2 separate regions of the Homo sapiens genome follow, and region 1 is linked to region 2. Evidence: fine-mapped expression QTL. A gene starts in region 2. The other region holds a variant in brackets. All regions are shown on one strand. Distances are from middle to middle. Region 1 overlaps ZDHHC5 (zDHHC palmitoyltransferase 5). Region 2 holds the start of SERPING1 (serpin family G member 1).

What was found. PIP is the estimated chance that this variant, and not a neighbour inherited with it, causes the effect. A credible set is the group of variants that fine-mapping cannot tell apart.
Region 1: its variant is the best candidate, but not a certain one, in a credible set for the expression of SERPING1 in whole blood (TOPMed, PIP 0.50).

Annotation. Positions count from the first base shown.
Region 1 is chr11:57,688,811-57,694,187 of GRCh38, reverse strand. It overlaps ZDHHC5 (zDHHC palmitoyltransferase 5), which reads right to left. Exons shown (of 12, transcript NM_015457.3): 5 at 3,985-4,157; 6 at 3,751-3,853; 7 at 1,486-1,577; 8 at 273-405. Among named protein-coding and RNA genes, the nearest start is that of MED19, 21 kb to the left of the region's middle. The variant T/C (reference allele first, on the strand shown) is at 2,509.
Region 2 is chr11:57,595,565-57,600,941 of GRCh38, reverse strand. It overlaps SERPING1 (serpin family G member 1), which reads right to left and starts at 3,257. Exons shown (of 8, transcript NM_000062.3): 1 at 3,220-3,257; 2 at 2,621-2,693; 3 at 565-1,063. The coding sequence starts at 2,671.

The DNA.
Region 1 (5,377 bases), 93 kb before region 2:
AAACCCCATCTCTACTAAAAATACAAAAATTAGCCAGGCAAGGTGACGGACACCTGTAATCCCAGCTACTCGGGAGGCTGAGGCAGGAGAATTGCTTGAACCTGGGAGGCAGAGTTTGCACTGAGCACCACTGCACTCCAGCCTGGGCAACAGAGCAAGACTCTGTCTCAAAAAAAAAAAAAAAAACACAAAGGAAACTAAAGCAAGCTTCCGTCTCTTTGCCTTGGGTGAGACTTCCATGTTATCTAGCTTGACTTCTCTAAATTCCTCACCTTTGTTCTCCTCAGCTCTCCCTGGATGCCATTATCCATGATCTTCACAGTTATCTGCCCATCTGAAACTTCTGGTCGAAGGAAGGGAGGTCTGATTACAATTGTCTTCTCTTTCTTTGGTCTCCCCAAATACCTAAGTGTCGAGAGAGAGAGAGAGAGAGACACAGCGAGAGAGCTTTCATTCATTTATATTTTAAAGTATCTACTGTTTCTGTAAACCATTTTTATTAGGTTGGTAAAAAAGTAATTGCAGTTTTGGCCATCACTTACTTAGCAATAAACAGAATTGATTCTGTGAAGGACTGCAGCAGGACTAGGCCTTTGTGAGCAGATACCTAGCTCAAGGAAAGCACTTTAGAGTGTATCTTATTCACCCTCAATTCTCAAAGATTTACCTTAATACCTGAAGAATATCAATGGAATTCACAGTGTCCACTAAAGCAGGGGTCCCCAACCCCTGGGCCGCAGACCAGTACCGGTTCATGGCCTGTTAGGAACTGGGCCACATAGCAGGAGGTAAGCAGTGGGCCAGTGAGCATTATCACCTGAGCTCCATCTCCTGTCAGATCAGCGGAGGCATTAGATTCTCTTAGGAGCGCAAACCCTAGAACCCTGTTGTAAACTACACATGCAAGCAATCTAGGTTGTATGTGTGCTCTGAGCTCACTGCAACCTCTGCCTCCTGGGTTCAGGCAATTATCCTGCCTCAGCCTCCCAAGTAGCTGGGATTACAGGTGCCTGCCACCTTGCCCAGCTAATTTTTGTATTTTGAGTAGAGAAGGGGTTTCACCATATTGGCCAGGCTGGACTTGAACTTCTGACCTCAAGTGATTCGCCCACCTCGGCCTCCCAAAGTGCTGGGTGTGAGCCGCCACACCCAGCCATGAGAATCTAATGCCTCATGATCTGAGGTGGAACAGTTTCATCCTGAAACCACCCCACCCCAGCCCCCATCTGTGGAAAAAGTGTCTCCCATGAAACCGGTCCCTGCTGCCAAAAAGGTTAGGGACCACTGCACTAAAGGATGGGCATGTAGGTACTTACCATTCTAAGATAGACTACTTACCATTCTAAGATAGAGTGGGTACTTAACATTCTAAGATAGAGAACCCTTCCTAAAGGCTCTCACCAGACCCCTCCTTTACCAGAACAAGCCCAAAGAAGATAAAAGTTCTGACCAATGGTAAACACTAGACCAGAGGGATAGGTGTACCTGGGTGCTGGAGAACTGCAGAGAACACGGCTGACATTGTTACAGCAGCCATTGGTGAAGGGGTTCACACCTCCCCGGAATTTACCCGTAACCTAGAGGGAGAAAAAAAATACCAGGTTAGAAGATGAGACCTTGACTTCCAAAGGCCAAAATACAAATCTATTACAAGTTATTGTGCACTCACTATCTGAGGGCTATGCAAATGAGTAAAACACAAGAAATTTATATATGTTATGGTTAAGAGCAGGGAATCTACAGTCAGGGTCCTTAGTTCAAATCCTAGGTCTACCTCATGGTTGCTGACCCAAAACCTCAGTTTCCTCATGTAAAATGGGATAGCTTTCTAAATATTGAAAACTAAGATAAAGAATAAGCAATTAAGGGCTGGGCATGGCAGCTCACACCTGTAATCCCAGCACTTTGGGAGGCTGAGGCAGGTGGATCACCTGAGGTCCGGAATTTGAGACCAAACTGGCCAACATGGCAAAACCCCATCTCTACTATAAAAATATATAAAAACTAGCCGGGCATGGTGTCAGGCACCTGCAATCCCAGCTACTTGGGTAGCTGAGGCAGGAGAATTGCTTGAAGCCAGGAGGCAAAGGTTGCAGTGAGCCGAGATCGTGCCACTGCGCCCCAGCCAGTGGGCTCCAGCCAGTGGGCTCCAGCCTGGGTGACAAAGCGATACTCTGTCTCAAAAAAGAAAAAAAAAAAGCAATTAAGGTTAGCTACTATTATATGCACAAAAATCATTGCTTTCCTGTAAGCAGCACTATAAGCTTCTTGAGGGCTAGCCTAAGTCTTTCATTGTTTCTATAAACTCAGAGCCTAAATTCTCCAGTATCCAGTGGGCATATAGTAAATGTCTGTTAACTAAGAAGTGGCCTCTATTCTTTTTTTTTTTTAGGAAGATCTTAAATATTTATATGTATATGAACATATATGTACATATACATATGTCTTGCTACACTTTAAATTTAAAAATCTATTAATATGATTTTTGACAAACTAAAGAAAGAATAC[T/C]ATTATTTGGATACCAAGTTCTATGGTGAGTATTGTTTAAAAAACTATCATCTTATTCTTTATGCTATATTGTCTAGTTTCAGTTTGGTTTGGGTCTCTCAATTGATATTTCAGGTGATGATGCCAAACCATCCAAGACTTTCTTTGGAGATAGATATTATTTTGTTATAAAATATATTTTTAGGCTGGGCGCAGTGGCTCATGCCTGTAATCCCTGCACTTTGGGAGGCCGAGGTGGGCGGATCACGAGGTCAAGAGATCGAGACCATCCTGGCTAACATGGTGAAACCCCGTGTCTACTAAAATTACAATAAATAAATAAATAAATAAAAGATATTTTAGCACTTTGGGAGGCTGAGGTGGGTGGATCACCTGAGGTCGGGAGTTCGAGACCAGCCTGGCCAACATGGTGAAACCCTGTCTCTACTAAAAATACAAAAATTAGTTGGGCGTGGTGATGCACATCTGTAATCTCAGCTACTTGGGAGCCTGAGGCAGGAGAATCGCTTGAACCCAGGAGGCAGAGGTTGCAGTGAGCCAAGATCACGCCACTGGATGCCAGCCTGGGCGACAGATCAAGACTCTGTCTCAAAAAAATAAAAAATAAAAAAAGATATTTTAGGGCAAAATTCAGCCTTTATCTCTATTGTCTTAGTATCTCTTTGAGAGTATCTTTATTATTATTATACTTACAGCTCTAGGGTACATATGCACAACATGCAGGTTTGTTACATATGTATACATGTGCCATGTTGGTGTGCTGCACCCATTAACTCGTCACTTACATTAGGTATATCTCCTAATGCTATCCCTCCCCGCTCCCCCTGCCCCACAACAGGCCCCAGGGTGTTATGTTCCCCACCCCGTGACCAAGTGTTCTCATTGTTCAGTTCCCACCTATGAGTGAGAACATGCGGTGTTTGGTTTTCTGTCCTTGCGACAGTTTGCGCAGAATGATGGTTTCCAGATTCATCCATGTCCCTACAAAGGACAAGAACTCATCCTTTTTTATGGCTGCATAGTATTCCATGGTGTATATGTGAGAAATGGCCTCTATTCTTACATGGCCTCTACACTTACATGAGGAACTAGGACTACCTCACTCCCTACCATTAATCTCTACATAATCATGAAAAGTATTCATTAAGCATCTCTTTGTGGAAGCACTACACTGCACACTAATCAGAAGGCTAAAGAGACATGACCTGCTCTTCAGGGGTCTCTCGTCACTTTTCTCCATACCTGTTCATTGGTTGTGCGTCCCCTGGCCACCAGAACCACGTGAAATCCCGTGAGGCCAGCTACAGGGATGAAGAATAAGCCAGCCACACACATTACTGCCATTCTGATGCCAAACAATCAAGGAGAACAGAGCAACATGACCTCACTTTCCCCGGCCCCTACTGCAGCCATTTTCCCTTTAGCCCTCATTCCTCCCCCTTCCAATCCCACAATCTAAAAGGCCTTGAAGGATACGTGACAGCCGTGCGGACCCCTGAGAGTTCCTCTATGTGGTAGAGGACATAAAGGAGGCCAAAGCCAAACACACCCATAATGTGGGCTGTCAGGGAAAGGAGGAAAAGGAAAAAATAACGGTAGTTCCGGCGACCAATACAGTTATTCACCCAGGGGCAGTGATGATCAAATTCCTAGGGACAAAGAGAGACAGATGAGAGGCATCCCTGGACCATAGCATTAAATTACTTCTGTCAAGAAGAGAAACAAATGGCAGCTAAGTTTTGATCATGGTCACCAATTAGTTCAAAATTAAATCCAGTTTATTTTGCTCTATAAATCTGCAAGGGAGACCTTCCAGAGGTTGGTCAAAGGCCAAGGCCAACCAGGCGTAGTGGTGCACACTTGTAGTCCCAGCTACTTGGGGGGCTGGGGCTTGAGCCCAGGAGTTCAAGGCTGTAGTGAACTATGATGACTGCCTGTGAATAGCCACTGTACTGGGCAACATAGCAAGACCCCATCTCTTAAAAAAAAAAAAAAAAAAAAATTGGCCGGGCGCGGTGGCTCACGCCTGTAATCCCAGCACTTTGAGAGGCCGAGGCGGGTAGATCACGAGGTCAGGAGTTCAAGACCAGCCTGACCAACATGGTGAAACCCCATCTCTACTAAAAATACAAAAATTAGCCGGGCGTGGTAGCGCGTGCCTGTAATCCCAGCTACTCAGGAGGCTGAGGCAGGAGAATCGGTTGAACCCGGGAGGCGGAGGATGCAGTGAGCCGAGATTGCGCCATTGCACTCCAGCCTGGGCAACAGAGCGAGACTCCGTCTCGATAAATAAATAAATATATATATATATAAAAAAGACCAAGGCCGGCTCTCAATGTTTATCCTATGTGACCAAGGAACTCTAAAAGTGACGAATGTCAGAGGTTTTGCAGAAACATCAAGATTCATAAGAAAAGAGGATTAGAAGGAAGATTTGGCAGGTAACTGCTTATAGCTAAGTGAAAATGGAATGGAAAAAGGACAAGGGATGCAGAAGGACAGGCAGGAAAACAACTACAACAAATTGAAACACAACAGCATGATTTTCTGGAAGAGAAAATGCAAAGCCAGGATAAATAACCAAAACTGAGCCAATAGATAGAAGGCTAGAACTATAAATCTTGGTGTCAAGAAAGCCTACACCCTGCTAGTGCAATGGCTCATGCCTGTAATCCCAGCACTCAGCACTCTGGGAGGCCAGGGCATGAGGATCACTTGAAGCCAGGAATTTGAGATAGTCCAAGCAACACAGTGAGACCTCATCACTACAAAAAGTAAAAATAAATAAAAAAGAAAGCCTATGCCCATATTGAGTTAAAGCTTCCCTCCTGCAATAATATTTATGCTCTGCCTCTCATGCCATGTCATT
Region 2 (5,377 bases):
TCTCGCTCTGTCACCCAGACTGTAGTGCAATGGTGCGGTCTCGGCTCACTGCAACCTCCACCTCCTGGGTTCAAGCGATTCTCCTGCCTCAGCTGCCCAAGTAGCTGGGATTACAGGCATGCACCACCACTCCCTGATAATTTTTGTATTTTTAGTAGAGACAGGGTTTCACCATGTTGGCCAGGCTGGTCTTGAACTCCTGACCTCAGGTGATCCACCCGCCTTGGCCTCCCAAAGTGCTGGGATTACAGGCGTGAGCCACTGCGCCTAATTTCATCTTTCTTATCACCTCTCCTTGCCATGAAACATGGTTAGTGGCTGCGACCTTATTTTATATGTTCTTGTATAGTCACAGAGTTTTACAAGCAATCGTGCCTATTACATCACTGTGAAATGATGGAATGTTCAAGAATGAAAAGATACATCCCTCTACCCCACCCCCAATATATAATAGCCCATTTTTACAGCTTCTTCCCAGAGGCATGGCTTTGTAAGTGTCTGGATTGGTGACTCTTATGGGAGTGTCCAACAAATGACCTGGAGAGAATTCAAGCAGGGTCTTACCGAGCAGGACCTGGGTAAGGAGGCTGGCGATGCTGAATGGGGAAAAGGCCATGTTGGTCTCCACCTTCTTCATTGCTGAGAAGGCGTGGTAGAGCTTCAGGGAGAAATCTACCAAAGCATCCCCCAACACGGCCTCTGTTGAATGACTCTCCAAGTCAGAGCAGAGAGTAACAGGTCCTGGGCAGAAGGACCCAGTAGTGGGCTGGGTAGGAGAATCTGTTGGGAGCTGGGTAGTTGGTTGGGTGGGTTGGATGGTGGGTTGGGTGGTGGGCTCTGTGGTGGGTTGTGTGGTGGGTTCATCAGTGGTATTAGCTGTTATTTTGGTGGCTGAATTGGTTGTTGAGTTGGTTGTCGGCAAGCTGGAAACCTCCAGGATGGGTTCAACGAATAGCATCTTGGAGATAACTGTTGTTGCGACCTTCCCTTCGCCTCTGTCTTGCAAACTCTCTGGATCCTGGGAGCTGGAGCTGGTAGCATTTGGATTTGAGGAGGCTCTATCCTGTGGTTCAAGAAACTGAGTTTCATTTTTTTCTTACTACGAGGCACAGTCCTCTAAAATACTCAAAGCAGGAAGAGAAGGTGTGGATGTGGAAAATGTCCTGTACAAGAGAGTAATTTCTGACAGTGCGGCAGATGAGCAATCTGTCTTAGAACCACCACCACTAATTCCTCAGAGAAGGGGCAATACAGGGTGAGGGTGGGGGTGCACAGGAATGTGCTCTGCAGAAGATGAGGGATAGTCAGGGACTCTGTAATCTCTGACCAATTACTGCCCTGTAGGAAGTTGTTTTCCAAACAGTGAAGCTGAGTGTTGTCATTTATCTATGTTCTTGCAATTTCCTGTAAATATCTACCTGTTTGACTCACTTGCTTGGCTAGTACAGACATTTGAACTTGTGCTCCTTGATTTAGAACAGTAAATTTTTAAACTGTGGGTTGCAACCCATTAGTGGGTGTGGAAAAACAGTACACATTAGGAAGGGAACGAAGAAAGGGAAGGAGGAAAGAAGGGAGGCAGGAAGGGAGGGAGAGAGAAGTAGTATAGGCCAGCGGCTCTGAAACAATTTTGACTCCCAGGGGATATTTGGCAATGTCCAGAGACATTTTTGGTTGTCACAGGGAGACAGCAGGGAAGATGCTACCGGAATCTAGTGCGTAGAGGCTAGAGATATACTGCAAAACATCCTAAAATGCGCAGGGTAGCCCCTCAGCAATGAATTATCCAGCCCCAATGTCAACAGATCCTCCACTGAGAAACCACGCATTAGCTCCATTTCACAGGTAGAGAAACTCATACCGACACATATTAACTAGTCCAGGGTCTCACAGAAATGGGAGAAACAGCTAGGGGTCAAAACAAGGTCTCTGATTCCAAACTCCCTGCTCATAACTACATCATCTGCTGAGTATGTGATACCAACTTGCGCGTGCACACACACACACACGCACATACACACACCCCTACCTACCTTTCTCCTGGGATCCTGCACTTCTTAGCCTTATTTCTAGTCCATGACCTCCCAGACCACTGGGACCTCTCACTGCTATTGACCCCCACCCAGACCCACGTATGTTTGCTACCATTCTTCCCTGTCTTCACAGGCCCTAGCCTGGGACCACCGTCTGTGTCACAGCAGCCAAACCTCTCCTCCCCACAGCTCTTTTCTACAACAAACTCTTGCTTTGATATCACAAAATGCTTCCCATCTCCTTGCCCTATGTGATCCTCCTGCCAAGCCTGCTTGGTGGACAGGGTGGGATCTGTTTATTCAACATTTTATAAATCAGGAGGAGTAGGCTGAGAAAAGTGACGTCCTCAGGACCACGCTGCGCAGCTCCTACATGGCCCGCCAAGATTAGAACTTGCATCTGTCTGAGTCCTGAGCTCTTTCCACCATCTACGAGTGCGTGTGCAAGGATCACACTCAATGATCCCAAGAGGAGCTCTCCTCATTCCCCGGAGCCTGAAGGGTTAATCCTCAGCCACCGCCCGCACCCCGCACCATCCCGCCTCCCGTCTCCACCCCCGTCCCCCATCCCACAAGGGACCACATACCCCAGCCAGCAGCAGCAGCAGGAGGGTCAGCAGGGTCAGCCTGGAGGCCATCTGGGCGGCGACGTCAGCGGACCTGCGGAGCCAGCCAGCCTCGGAGCCAGCTCCCACCCTGGGAGCCCAGGGGCCCCCACCCCGCCCGGGGCCCGCCCCCATTCCGTCTCAGGCCCCAGTCCCTCTTAGCGAATTCCCTCCTCCTCCCTCCTGGGGCCACCTTCTCCCTGGCTCCTCCCTCTGTTTTGTTTTCCCCAAACCGCTTCCCTTTCCCGGCACCGGCTGGCCCTTCCTCTCCCCGTGGGCCCGGGTCTCTGTCCATCTGTTCAGTCGGAGGGGAGGTGGTGGGAGGGGGAGGGGGTCCTGCTTTAACCAAACAATGAGGCCAGAGGCGTGGGGGAGGGGAGGTCCTGGGGGGCTGAGCACAACAGGCCTGAGGCGGGAGGGGCTGGGGTAGGAGGAGGCAGAAGTCCCAGGTGGAAGCAAGCCTATAGAGACCCCCGAGATCAAGGCGGGCAGGAAGGCGGGGGTGAGGAGACCCCCTCCCTAGACCTCTTCACTCCATGCTTTCCACCCTACTCCCCACCCCTGCCCAGCACCAAACCTACTCCAAACTTCTGGTCACCAGGCAGCTCCAGTGCAGACTGAGTAGAGAGTCCCCCAGGGTCAGGGAGGGTGGGGTGCGGGGGGGGCAGTCTTAGCTATTGGCTGGCCCGGGACACTGCCCAGTTACAAATTAAGGAAGATTGATCGCTGGTGTGAGTTCCTGTAAATCAGGATGGGACGGAATGGGACTGACCGCTTGGTCTTCTTTGTGGGCCAGGCCAGGAATTTAGCCCAAATCCCCTGGTAGGTGGGGTGAACGGGGAAGCTTGGGTGCAGTTCTCAGCTTTACACAACCAAAGCTTCCCCCGCGTCTTCATGAGTAACAATAAAAACAGCATGTACACAAAATGTGCTCCGCAGTTTTTAAAGGAATGAACTTTTTGGAAATTGCTCACCTCCGTTATTCCTCAAAGTAACCCTTTGTGCCCCATTGTACCCATTTGATAGTTAAGATACTGAGCCTTAGAGCAGTGAAATGTCGGGCCCTGATCACCCTCATTTGGAGAAGTATTCTGAAGCCTAATCCCTGCTCCCATCTCCCCTGTGCCCTGTAGGTGTTCTGCCATTTTTGCTCGTAGAGACCCATAATCAGTAGTTCTTTGTATAACAGACAACGGATGTGAGGCACCCAGCTCAACAAGCATTCAACCTAATTAAAAAAAAAAAAAAAAAAAAAGCTAGCCGGGCACGGTGGCTCACGCCTGTAATCCCAGCACTTTGGGAGGCCGAGGTGGGTGGATCACTTGAGGTCAGGAGTTTGAGACCACTCTGGCCAATATGGGGAAACCCCGTTTCCGCTAAAAGTACAAAAATTAGCTGGGCAGTGCAGGCGCGCACATGTAGTCCCAGCTACTAGGGAGGCTGAGGCACAATCACTTGAATCTGGGAGGCAGAGGTTGCAGTGAGCTGAAATTGCACCACTGCACTCCAGCCTGGGTGACAGAGCAAGACTGTCTCAAAAAACAAATAACTAACTAAATAAATATTTAAAAACTTGAAAGCTGGGGTGTATGTGTTTGCGACTAGGGCTCCACAATAGACCTGGCTGGCTGTGTGAGCCAGCAAGTTGCTTTCCCCCTTGACGTCTGGCTGTCCTCGAAATCTGGCTGTCCTCGACATCTAGCTGTCCTCTCAGCATTGCCAGATAAAACACACGAAGTAGGCAGGCCTGGGGGTTCATACCTGTAATCCCAGCCTTTTAGGAGACTGAGGCAGGAGGATCCCTTGAGCCCAGGAGTTCAAGGCTGCAGTTAGCATTGATCATGCCACTGCACTCCAGCCTGGGCAACAGAGTAAGACACTTGCTGTCTCTAAAAAAAAAAAAAAAAACTTACATTGGGATATACTTATGGTAAAAATGCTTACATTGGAATATACTTATGGTAAAATAAATTTTGTTGTCATTGTTGTGTATCTGAAATTCAAATATAATTGGCATTTTGTATTTTTGCTAAATCTGATAACTCTGCCTCATCTGCAAAACAAACAGGTTGTCTCTGATGACCTAATATAGCTATCATGTTCTATCGTCATCTCACTGCAGGCCTATCCTCTGGCTGTGTTTGGAGCATTCAGGAAAGTTTGCTGCTAGCACCAGAACTGCTACTCTAAGGGACTGACCAAGGACAGAAACAGGAGAATATTTGTGTGTCTCCTCGGGGGTCCTTGGACAAGACCCAGAAAGAGTCTTCCCCAGCTTTGTGCTTTATTCTCTGAAGCCACTTGGGAACCTCCTAAACCATGGGAAAGTTATATAACATCAGAGCCATCGTTTGAACAGCTGCACACAAAACAACGTTTCTCCATCCCCAGTGCTCAAGCTGGTGGGCTCAAAGGGACTATGAGCTTGTGGATTCTGGGAAATGGGTCAGCCAAAGGAAAAGAAGGTGGTGGAAAGCAACCTAATTCACTGAGTGCTCACCATGCATTTACATTCATCCTCTCACTAATTCTCATCACCTATGAAGTAGGTGCTATATTAATCCCATCTTAAACAAGTTAAAATGAGGCTCAGAGAAATTAATTGATCTACCTAATATCACAAAGCCAGTAAGTGACAGAGCCAGGATGTGGACCAGGTCTGTTTGACCCAACAGTTCTTTATTAACCCTTACAAATTATTGACACACACCAGGGGCTAACCTGAAGCAGACAGCAAAG